Linked DNA regions of Homo sapiens: region 2 is linked to region 1. The links come from fine-mapping of genetic effects on gene expression. A gene starts in region 1. The other region holds a variant in brackets. All regions are shown on one strand. Distances are between the middles of the regions. Region 1 holds the start of ZNF132 (zinc finger protein 132). Region 2 overlaps ZNF584 (zinc finger protein 584).

The links. PIP is the estimated chance that this variant, and not a neighbour inherited with it, causes the effect. A credible set is the group of variants that fine-mapping cannot tell apart.
Region 2: its variant is the best candidate, but not a certain one, in a credible set for the expression of ZNF132 in whole blood (TOPMed, PIP 0.56).

What each region holds. Positions count from the first base shown.
Region 1 is chr19:58,438,224-58,443,433 of GRCh38, forward strand. ZNF132 (zinc finger protein 132) reads right to left here and starts at 1,930. Exons shown (of 3, transcript NM_003433.4): 1 at 1,536-1,930. The coding sequence starts at 1,598. ZNF132-DT (ZNF132 divergent transcript) reads left to right here and starts at 2,225. Exons shown (of 1, transcript NR_186311.1): 1 at 2,225-5,210. It also overlaps a transcript of ZNF324B not described here. RefSeq lists enhancers at 1,596-2,106, 2,339-2,468, 2,618-3,127.
Region 2 is chr19:58,410,463-58,415,672 of GRCh38, forward strand. It overlaps ZNF584 (zinc finger protein 584), which reads left to right. Exons shown (of 4, transcript NM_173548.3): 3 at 5,062-5,184. Among named protein-coding and RNA genes, the nearest start is that of ZNF584, 4.4 kb to the left of the region's middle. The variant G/A (reference allele first, on the strand shown) is at 2,954.

The sequences.
Region 1 (5,210 bases):
GGCTCAGCCACTATCTTGAACCCAACCCACAACTGCATGCAGTGTCCACACACAAGCATCCATCCCTTGGATGTTTCCAGCCTAAACCCGACATAATTTCATAATCACATGTTTAGTGGTCTACTTGGCACCTCAATTTGGTAGTGTCTGGGACATCTCAAATACAACATGGCCAAAATCCAACTCTTTATCTTCCCCCTGAAATCTACTCCTCACACCAACTTCCACATCTGAAAGATCTAAGGTCAATTTTTTTTTTTTTTTTTTTGAGACAGAGTCTCGCTCTGTCACCCAGGTTGGAGTGCAGTGGCGCGATCTTGGCTCACTGCAAGCTCCGCCTCCCGGGTTCAAGCCATTCTCCTGCCTCAGCCTCCCGAGTAGCTGGGACTACAGGCACCCACCACCACGCCTGACTAATTTTTTGTATTTTTAGTAGAGATGGGGTTTCACCGTGTTAGCCAGGATGGTCTCAATCTCCTGACCTAGTGATCCACCTGCCTCGGCCTCCCAAAGTGCTGGGATTACAGGCGTGAGCCACCACGCCCGGCAATTTTTTTTTTTTTTTAAGACAGAGTCTCGCTCTGTCACTCAGGCTGGAGCGCAGTGGCACGATCTCAGCTCAATGCAACCTCCATCTCCCAGATTCAAACAGTTCTTCTGCCTCAGTTTCCCAAGTTGCTGGGATTACAGGTGCACACTACCATGTCCTGGCTAATTTTTCTGTATTTTTAGTAGAGGTGGGGTTTCGCCACGTTGGCCAGGCTGGTCTTGAACTCCTGACCTCAAGTGATCTGGCCGCCTTGGCCTCCCAAAGTGCTGGGATTACAAGTGTGAGCCACTGCACTCAGCCTTAGGTCAATCTTAACATTTCACTTTCTTTCACTGTCCCACATCAGGTAATCCATGGCCCAGTTTGGGCAGATTCAGAAGCCAACCATCTGTCCTACCTCCACGGGCACCCCTCTGTCCAGCTACCCAAAGCACACATCTGGACCACATCTGTCAGCTCCTCACTGGCCTTCCTGCTCCACCATCACCATCCCTCCAGTCTGCTGCCCACTAGGCATCCATAGGGCGTCTGTTAAGACTGGAGTCAGAGCACCTACTTCCTCTACTCCAAACCTTCCATGGCTCCCACCACCATCAGAATAGAGGTCCAGCTCCTCAGGCTGCCATTCCAGGCCTAACTATTGGTTTCCCTTCCCTGTTTCCACCAGACTAAATGGAGACCGGCAGTCCCCAGAATGCTTCCATTTCATCACCACTAAACAAGGTACACATGCTGGTCACTGTCCCTGGGACAGCCTTCCAGATCTCATTCCACAGGATTCCAGAAATGGGAATCCCTCGATATAACCCCTTGCCTGGATTCAGGATGGTAAGGGTAAGTGACTCCCAGGGCAGGGCCCAGGACCCACGTGTGAGGACAGGACACGATCAAGAGTCCCAGGACACCAACATCCCCTCTATCTGGGCTTCAGGATCCTGAGGGCCGGAATCCCAGCGGGTGAGGGCCTGGGGCACACTCCACTTACCTGCGCCGGGCCCATCAGCAACGCTGGCAACCCCATTAGAACCTGTGGGCTGGGCAGGGCCATAACAGGAGGCCCAGGGCTAGCCCTGCCGCTGGGCCGAACCCTCACACTTCCGCTGGGTGACGGTCGCACTCAGGACCTGTCTTCCCAAATGCAAAATGCGCGCAAGGCCTCTGGGCACCGCAGGGACGAAGGCTGGGTATGGAGACCCTGGAGACGCGTGGCGCTGGCTCCACTTTCGGGAACACCTTGGCTCATAAAAGCAGAGTAATTAGCCGGGCACTATGGTGCGTGTGAAGGCGCGGTGACGGTCCCTGCACCCACTCCCGTGCCCTGGTGTGGCTCCAGAGGCCTGCTGTAGCCCAACCCACCAGCAGCAAAATGAGGACCGCAATGGCGGCGCCGGAAGTCCCGCCTCTCAATGACAGCTCGGACTTGCCACTGGTCCGAGCTTTCATTGGCTCAAGGATCCCCGCCGTCTATGACGCTATTTCCCTATGCCCGTCACGCTACTGCTAGGTCGTTGCCAAGGTGATTGAGGAATGGCGTTTATTGCGTCGCTGCTCAGGCAACGCAAACTACATTATCCAGAAGGACCCTCGCGGTGCCTCAGGGCTGGCCATTGGCAGCCGAGGAGACAGGCACTTCCGGGCGGAGTGTAAGACGCTGGCCAATCACAGCCTGGCAGCGGGACTTCCGTCGTCGTCCTCGGACCATCACTTTGGCATTTCTCGATTTTGTCTGCTTCTGAAGGGACCGCGTTGTCAGGCGAGGGACGGAATCTTGGAGGCTCCCTGGGCCCATGGAAACAGGAGCGAGGAAGGCACGAGAGTCGGGGAAGTTCCGCCTTCTTGACATACAAGCGCCCCCACCGCGGCGAATATCGCCCCTGAGCCCAGTGTTCGCCCCCCACAACACCGCACCCCCCTTCCCCACCCTGTGCCTTAGATAAAGCCGGCCCAGTGGGACCCTCAGGTTGCACCGCGCGGAGGTGTCCGCGGCTCTCGGGAGTCGTCGCCCTTGGCGTTATGTTGGCTTTAGGGAGCGCGAGGCCGAGGCCAAGAAAAGCTACGCATTGGGAGGTCTTGACCCAGTGTGCGCCCGGCTGTAGGCATGGAACGTGCGCCAAAGGTCTCCTGGCACCCACTCCGCTGGACTCAGCACCATTGTCCTAAGTCTCCGATTGAGAAGTATCTGCCCCAGGTCCTCTGCGGGCCCCACTGAACAGTGTGGAGCGTTCACAGGTTGGGGGTCACCATTTCAGAATCCAGTTTGTTGAGACGTGGAGGGTACAGGAGGAGGGATCTGCATATGCGAAGACTTGGACTTGACCCTGACCTGAGCGTTCAGGCAGGCTCTCATGCCCCCTTGGCAGCGAGTGGAGAGCGTAAGAGGAGTCCTGCCTCTCCTGGCACACCGAGGGCGCCTGGGAGCCATGAAAGGTGTTGAACAGAAAAGGGATGGACATGACCTGAGTTAGAATTTGGAAAGTATTTCAGTGGTTGCTGAATGAACACACTACTGGAGAAGGTGGTTGTAGTGGGGCTGGAAGCAGGGAGACTGTGGGGGAGGTTATTGCAGTATTGTTCCAGACAGTTATGATAGTGGCCTGTCCAGAACGGAAGCAAGAAGGATGGGAGAAGTGATCAGATTCCCAGTGGATCTTCAAGATAGAGCTAATGGAATTTTTTGCTACCTTAGATAAGTGGAATAAGCATGAGTAGGGGTGAAGGACCATCCCAAGTAGTTAGGAAGAATTAGGATGCCTCCTGTGGAGAATAGAGGTTGGCAGTTGGCAGGAGGAGGATGTTTCATGGAAGATTAGCGATGGATTTTGTAGGTATAGAGTCTGAATTGTCTGGAGACCTGTGAGTGGAGGTGTCAAATGGGCCTCTGGATATATAGAATTCTGGTGTGGCTTCAGGACGTCCAGACTGCATTATGTTGGTGGCCTGGCCCAGTGAACGGCCTGAGGATAGGATTTGGGAAGGAGGGTTTTAGGTTGGAGGACCAGTGGCTAGGGCTCACGCTCAGTGCTTAGATCACATCTGTCTGCCCATTGGCTTGGTGTTGCAGGGCTTAATGACCTTTGAGGACAGGGTCAGTACATCTTCCAAGAATGTGGGGCTCCTTAGTGAGGTCCAAGGGGGCTTCTACAGTGACATGATACTACAGAGCTTTGTACTCCAGTGCCCACTAGGTAAGGCTACTGTGTCTCCTCTTTCCCCTACACATGAAATCTAGGTTTTCCTCCGCCTTTCCATTGTTCCCTCTGGGAGGTGCTGCTGGCCCTGGCACTGGCCAGTGTCCTGCTGTGTCCGGAATTGTTTCCTTCCTCTGGGTTCTTGGTCTCGCTGACTTCAAGAATAAAGCCGCGGACCCTCGTGTTGAGTGTTACAGTTCTTTTTTTTTTTTTTTTTTGAGACGGAGTCTCGCTCTGTCGCCCAGGCCGGACTGCGGACTGCAGTGGCGCAATCTCGGCTCACTGCAAGCTCCGCTTCCCGGGTTCACGCCATTCTCCTGCCTCAGCCTCCCGAGCAGCTGGGACTACAGGCGCCCGCCACCGCACCCGGCTAATTTTTTTTTTTTGTATTTTTAGTAGAGACGGGGTTTCACCTTGTTAGCCAGGATGGTCTCGATCTCCTGACCTCATGATCCACCCGCCTCGGCCTCCCAAAGTGCTGGGATTACAGGCGTGAGCCACCGCGCCCGGCCCTGTTACAGTTCTTAAAGATGGTGTGTCCGGAGTTTGTTCCTTCAGATGTTCAGATGTGTCTGGAGTTTTTTCCTTCTGGTGGGTTCGTGGTCTTGCTGACTTCAGGAGTGAAGCTGCAGACCTTCGCAGTGAGTGTTACAGCTCTTAAAGGTGGCACATCCAGAGTTGTTCATTCCTCCTGGTGGGTTCGTGGTCTCGCTGACCTCAGGAGTGAAGCTGCAGACCTTTGCAATGAGTGTTACAGCTCGTAAAGGTGGCGTGTCCAATGTTGTTTGTTCCTCCCAGTGGGTTTGTGGTCTCGCTGGCTTCAGGAGTGAAGCTGCAGACCTTTGTGGTGAGTGTTATAGCTCATAAAGGTAGTGTGGACCCAAAGAGTGAGCAGCAGCAAGATTTATTGCGAAGAGCAAAAGAATAAAGCTTCTACAGCATGGAAGAGGACCCGCGGGTTGCCGCTGCTGGCTTGGGTGGCCAGCTTTTATTCTATTTGGCCCTGCCCACATCCTGCTGATTGGTCCATTATACAGAGCACTGATTGGTCCATTTTACAGAGCACTGATTGGTCCATTTTACAGAGCACTGATTGGTCCATTTTTACAGAGTGCTGATTGGTGAGTTTACAAACCTATAGCTAGACACAGAGTGCTGATTGGTGCATTTACAATCCTTTAGCTAGACAGAAAAGTTTTCCAAGTCCCCAGCCAATTAGCTAGACACAGAGCGCTGATTGGTGCGTTTACTAACCTTTAGGGAGACACAGAGCGCTGATTGGTGCATTTTTACAGAGTGCTGATTGGTGCGTTTACAAACCTTTAGCTAGACACAGAGCGCTGATTGGTGTGTTGGCAGTCCTTTAGCCGGACAGAAAAGTTCCCCAAGTCCCCACTGGACCCAGAAGCCCAGCCGGCTTCACTTTTCACTGCTACTTATCCCTGGCTGCTGCATAAACAACCCCCACACCT
Region 2 (5,210 bases), 28 kb before region 1:
AGGGACCTCCCTGGGCCAGGCTTGAGCCATGAATTTTAATCAGAACGGTTTGGGAAATATATATATATATATATATATATATATATATATATATATGTGTATATATATATGTATATATATGTATATATATGTATATATATGTATATATATGTGTATATATGTGTATATATGTGTATATATATGTGTATATATGTGTATATATGTATATATGTGTATATATATGTATATATGTATATATATATGTATATATGTGTATATATATATGTATATATATATATGTGTGTATATATATATATATATGTATATATATATATAATTTTTTTTTTTTTTTTTTTTTTTTTTTTTTTGAGACAGAGCCTCACTCTGTTGCCCAGGCTGGAGTGCAGTGGCGCAATCTCGGCTCACCACAACCTCTGCCTCCAGGGTTCAAGCGATTCTCCTGCCTCAGTCTCCCGAGTAGCTGGGACTACAGGCTCGCGCCACCATGCCTGGCTAATTTTTGTATTTTTAGTAGAGACAGGGTTTCACTTTGTTGGCCAGGCTGGTCTTGAACTCCGGACCTCATGATCTGCCTGCCTTGGCCTCTCAAAGTGCTGGGATTACAGGCGTGAGCCACTGCGCCTGGCCACAAAGGTACTTCTTTCGTTAAATTTATTCCTAAGTACTTTATTCTTCACTGTTAAGTATGGTGTTAGCTGTTGGTTTTTTGCAGATGCCCATTTCAGGTGAGGAAGTTCCCTTCTCTTTCTAGTTCATTTAATGTGTTTATTAAGAAAAGTCATGGCCAGGTGCAGTGGCTCATGCCTGTAATTTCAGCATTTTGGGAGGGCGAGGCAGGTGGATTACCTGAGGTCAGGAGTTCAAGACCAGCGTGGTCAACATGGTGAAACCCCATCTCTACTAAAAATAGAAAACTAGCCAGGTGTGGTGGCACATGCCTGTAATCCCAGCTACTAGGGAAGCTGAGGCAGGAGAATCGCTTGAACCTGGGAGGTGGAGGTTGCAGTGAGCTGAGATCGCACCATTGCACTCCAGCCTGGGCAACAAGAGTGAAACTACGTCTCAAAAAAAAAAAAGAAAAGAAAGGTCACTAGATTTTGTCAAATGCTTTTCCAATGTCTAATGAAATGATCATGTGATTTTTGTCCTCTCTTCTGTTAATGTAGTATATTAGAATAATTGATTGCCTTTTCTTTTTTTGAGACGGAGTCTTGTTCTGTCGCCAGGCTGGAGTGCAGTGGCGCGATCTCGGCTCACTGCAACCTCCACCTCCCGGGTTCAAGTGATTTTCCTGCCTCAGCCTCCCAAGTAGCTGGGACTATAGGCGTGCACCACCACGCCCAGCTAATTTTTGTATTTTTCGTAGAGATGGGGTTTCACCATGTTTGCAAGGATGGTCTTGATCTCTTGACCTCGTGATCTGCCCCCGTCGGCCTCCCAACACTAATTGTTGATTTTCATATGTTCAACCTTGCATTACTGGGATAAATTCCCTGTCATGGCTTATAATACTTGTTTTTTTTTTTTTTTTTTTTTTTAGACAGAGTCTTACTCTGTCGCCCAGGCTGGAGTTCAGTGGCATGATCTCGGCTCATTGCAACCTCCACCTCTTGGGTTCAAGTGATTCTCCTGCCCCCGCCTCCTGAGTAGCTGGGTTACAGGCATGCACCACTATGCCTGGCTAATTTTTTTATTTTTAGTAGAGACAGGGGTTTCACCATGTTGGCCAGGGTGGTCTTTTTTTTTTTTTTTTTTTTTGAGACGGAGTCTCGCTCTGTCGCCCAGGCCGGACTGCGGACTGCAGTGGCGCAATCTCGACTCACTGCAAGCTCCGCTTCCCGGGTTCACGCCATTCTCCTGCCTCAGCCTCCCGAGTAGCTGGGACTACAGGCGCCCGCCACCGCGCCCGGCTAATTTTTTGTATTTTTAGTAGAGACGGGGTTTCACCTTGTTAGCCAGGATGGTCTCAATCTCCTGACCTCATGATCCACTCGCCTCGGCCTCCCAAAGTGCTGGGATTACAGGCGTGAGCCACCACGCCCGGCCTGGCCAGGGTGGTCTTGAACTCCCGACCTCAGGTGATCCACCCATCTCGGCCTCCAAAGTGCTGAGATTACAGGTGTGAGCCACCACACCCAGCCAGTGGTGTAGTTTTCTTATAATGTCTCTGTATTGAGTATGAGGGTAATTTTGGCCTCAATGGATGAGTTGGGAATGTTTCCTTCTCTTCTGTTTTCTGGAAGAGTTTCTTAAGTATTGGTGTTAATTCTTATTTCAGTATTGTTAGTATTCACCTTTGAAGCCATCAGGGCTTGGGGTTGTGTGTGTTTTGGGGGGAATGTTTTTTAATAACAACAAGAAAACCCTCTTTGTTACATTTGTATTTAGATTTTCTGTTTCTTCTTGACTCAGTTTTGATAGTTTGTGTCTACTTGGGAATTTGTCCATTTCATCTAAGTTATCCAATTTGTTGGCATACATTTGTACATAGTATTTCATTATTTTTTAATTTTTATAAGGTTACTAGTGATGTCCTTTTTCCATTCCTGTTCAAAGTAGTATTGAGTCTTCTCTCTGTTTTTTGTCACTCTAGGTAAACATTTGCCAATTTTGTTGATTTTTTCAAAGAACCAAATTTTGGTTTGTCGGTTCTCTTTTTCTAATCTGTTTCATTCGTTTCTGCTCTAATTTTTATTATTTCCCTCCTTTTGCTATCTTTGGGTTTGTTTTTCTTTTTCTTGTTCCTTGAGGTATAAAGTTAGGTTATTGGTTTGAGATCTTTTAAAATATGGGTATTTATAGCCATAATGTTCCTGCTAAGCTCTGCATTTTCTGCATCCCATAATTTTTTGTTTGTTGTGGTATTTTTTTCTTTTTCTTTTTCTTTTTTTTTAATTTTTCTTTTTGAGATGGAGTCCTGTTGCCCACGCTGGAATGCAATGGTGCGATCTCG[G/A]CTCAATGCAATCTCCACCTCCTGGGTTCAAGCAATTCTGCTGCCTCAGCCTCCCAAGTCGCTGGGATTACAGGCATGTGCCACCATGCCTGGCTAATTTTTTTTTTTTTTTGAGGTGGAGTCTGATGCCTCCCAGGCTGGAGTGCAGTGGTGCGATCTTGGCTCACTGCAACCTCCGCCCCCCAAGTTCAAGCGATTCTCCTGCCTCAGCCTCCCGAGTGGCATGGTCCACCACACCTGGCTAATTTTTGTATTTTTTTTTTTTGGTAGAGACAGGGTTTCGCCATGTTGGCCAGGCTGGTCTTGAACTCCAGACCACAGGTGATCCACCCACCTCAGCCTACCAAAGTGCTGGGATTACAGGCGTGAGCCACCACCCGGCCTGTTGTATTTTTCTTTTCTTTTCTTTTTTTCTTTTTTTGAGATGGAGTCTTGCTCTGTCACCCAGGCTGGAGTGCAGTGGCACTATCTCGGCTCACTGCAAGCTCCGCCTCCTGGATTCATGCCATTCTCCTGCCTCAGCCTCCCGAGTATCTGGGATTACAGGCGCCCACCACCACGCCTGGCTAATTTTTTTTTGTATTTTTAGTAGAGACGGGGCTTCACTGTGTTCGGCAGGATGGTCTCAAACTCCTGACCTTGTGATCCACCTGCCTCGGCCTCCCAAAGTGCTGGGATTACACTTGAGCCACCACACCCAGCCCTGTGTTTTTATTTTCATTCCTCCCAAAGTACTTGTAATTGTCATGTGATTTATTTTTTCTTTGACTCTGGATTTTTAGGAATGTTTTGTTTAAATTCCTTAAATTTGTGAGTTTCCTAAATTTCTTTCTGTTGTTGATTTCTGTTTTAATTCATTTGTGGACAGAGAACATACTTGACATTATTTCAATCCTTTGAAATCTACTGAGGCTTGCTTTATTTATTTATTTATTTATTTTGAGACAGAGTCTTGCTCTGTCGCCCAGGCTGGAGTGCAGTGGCGCGATCTCAGCTCACTGCAAGCTCTGCCTCCTGGGTTCACGCCATTCTCCTGCCTCAGCCTCCTGAGTAGCTGGGACTACAGGCGCCTGCCACCATGCCCGGGTAATTTTTTTTTTGTATTTTTAGTAGAGATGGGGTTTCACTGTGTTAGCCAGGATGGTCTTGATCTCCTGACCTCATGATCTGCCCGTCTCGGCCTCCCAAAGTGCTGGGATTACAGGCATGAGCCACCGCGCCCAGCCGAGGCTTATTTTATATCCTAGCAAATGGTATGTTCTGAAGACCGTTCCATGTGCACGTGACAATGTATATCCTGCTGTTGTTAGGTGGCAAGCTCTATAGATGTCTGTTAGGACTAGTTGGTTTTCATTGTTGTTCAAGTCTGCTGTTGTTATTGATGGTGGGAAATTACAATCGTTATTATTGCTGAACAGTCTGTTTCTTCAGTTATGTCAGTTTTGCTTCATAGAAAGGCTTTTTTTTTTCTTTTTGTTTGTTTGTTTGTGTTTTTGAGACAGAGTCTCGCACTGTCGCCCAGGCTGGAGTGCAGTGGTGTGATCTCAGCTCACTGCAAGCTCTGCCTCCCAGGTTCATGCCATTCTCCTGCCTAAGCCTCCCGAGTAGCTGGGACTACAGGTGCCCGTCACCACATCCGCCTGATTTTTTTGTATTTTTAGTAGAAGGGGGGTTTCACCGTGTTAGCCAGGATAGTCTTGATCTCCTGACCTCGTGATCCGCCCACCTTGGCCTCCCAAAGTGCTGGGATTACAGGCGTGAGCCACTGCGCCCGGCCTGTTTGTTTGTTTTTGAGACAGGGTCTCACTCTGTTGCCCAGGCTAGAGTCCAATGGTGTGATCGTGACTCACTGACGCTTTGACCTCCTAGGCTCAAGTGATCCTCTCACTATGGCCTCCCTAGTAACTGGGACTACAGGTGGTGCATGCCATCATGCCTGGCTAATTAAAATAATATATTTTTTGTAGAGTTGGGGTCTTACTGTGTTGCCCAGGCTGGTTGCGAACGTCTGGGTTTAAGTGATCTCCTACCTCACTTTCCAAAGTGCTGGGATTACAGGCATCAGCCACCATGCCCAGCCTGTTTCTTTTACTACCTGTCACCCGCAGGACTTGCACCTTCGAGATCCCCTGTGTTTACCCAGCTGGAGGATGATGAACAGTCGTGGGTGCCCAGCTGGGTGGATGTGACTCCAGTCAGCAGAGCAGAAGCCAGGAGAGGTTTTGGTCTTGGTAAGTGGAGTGGAGGGGAATACCTT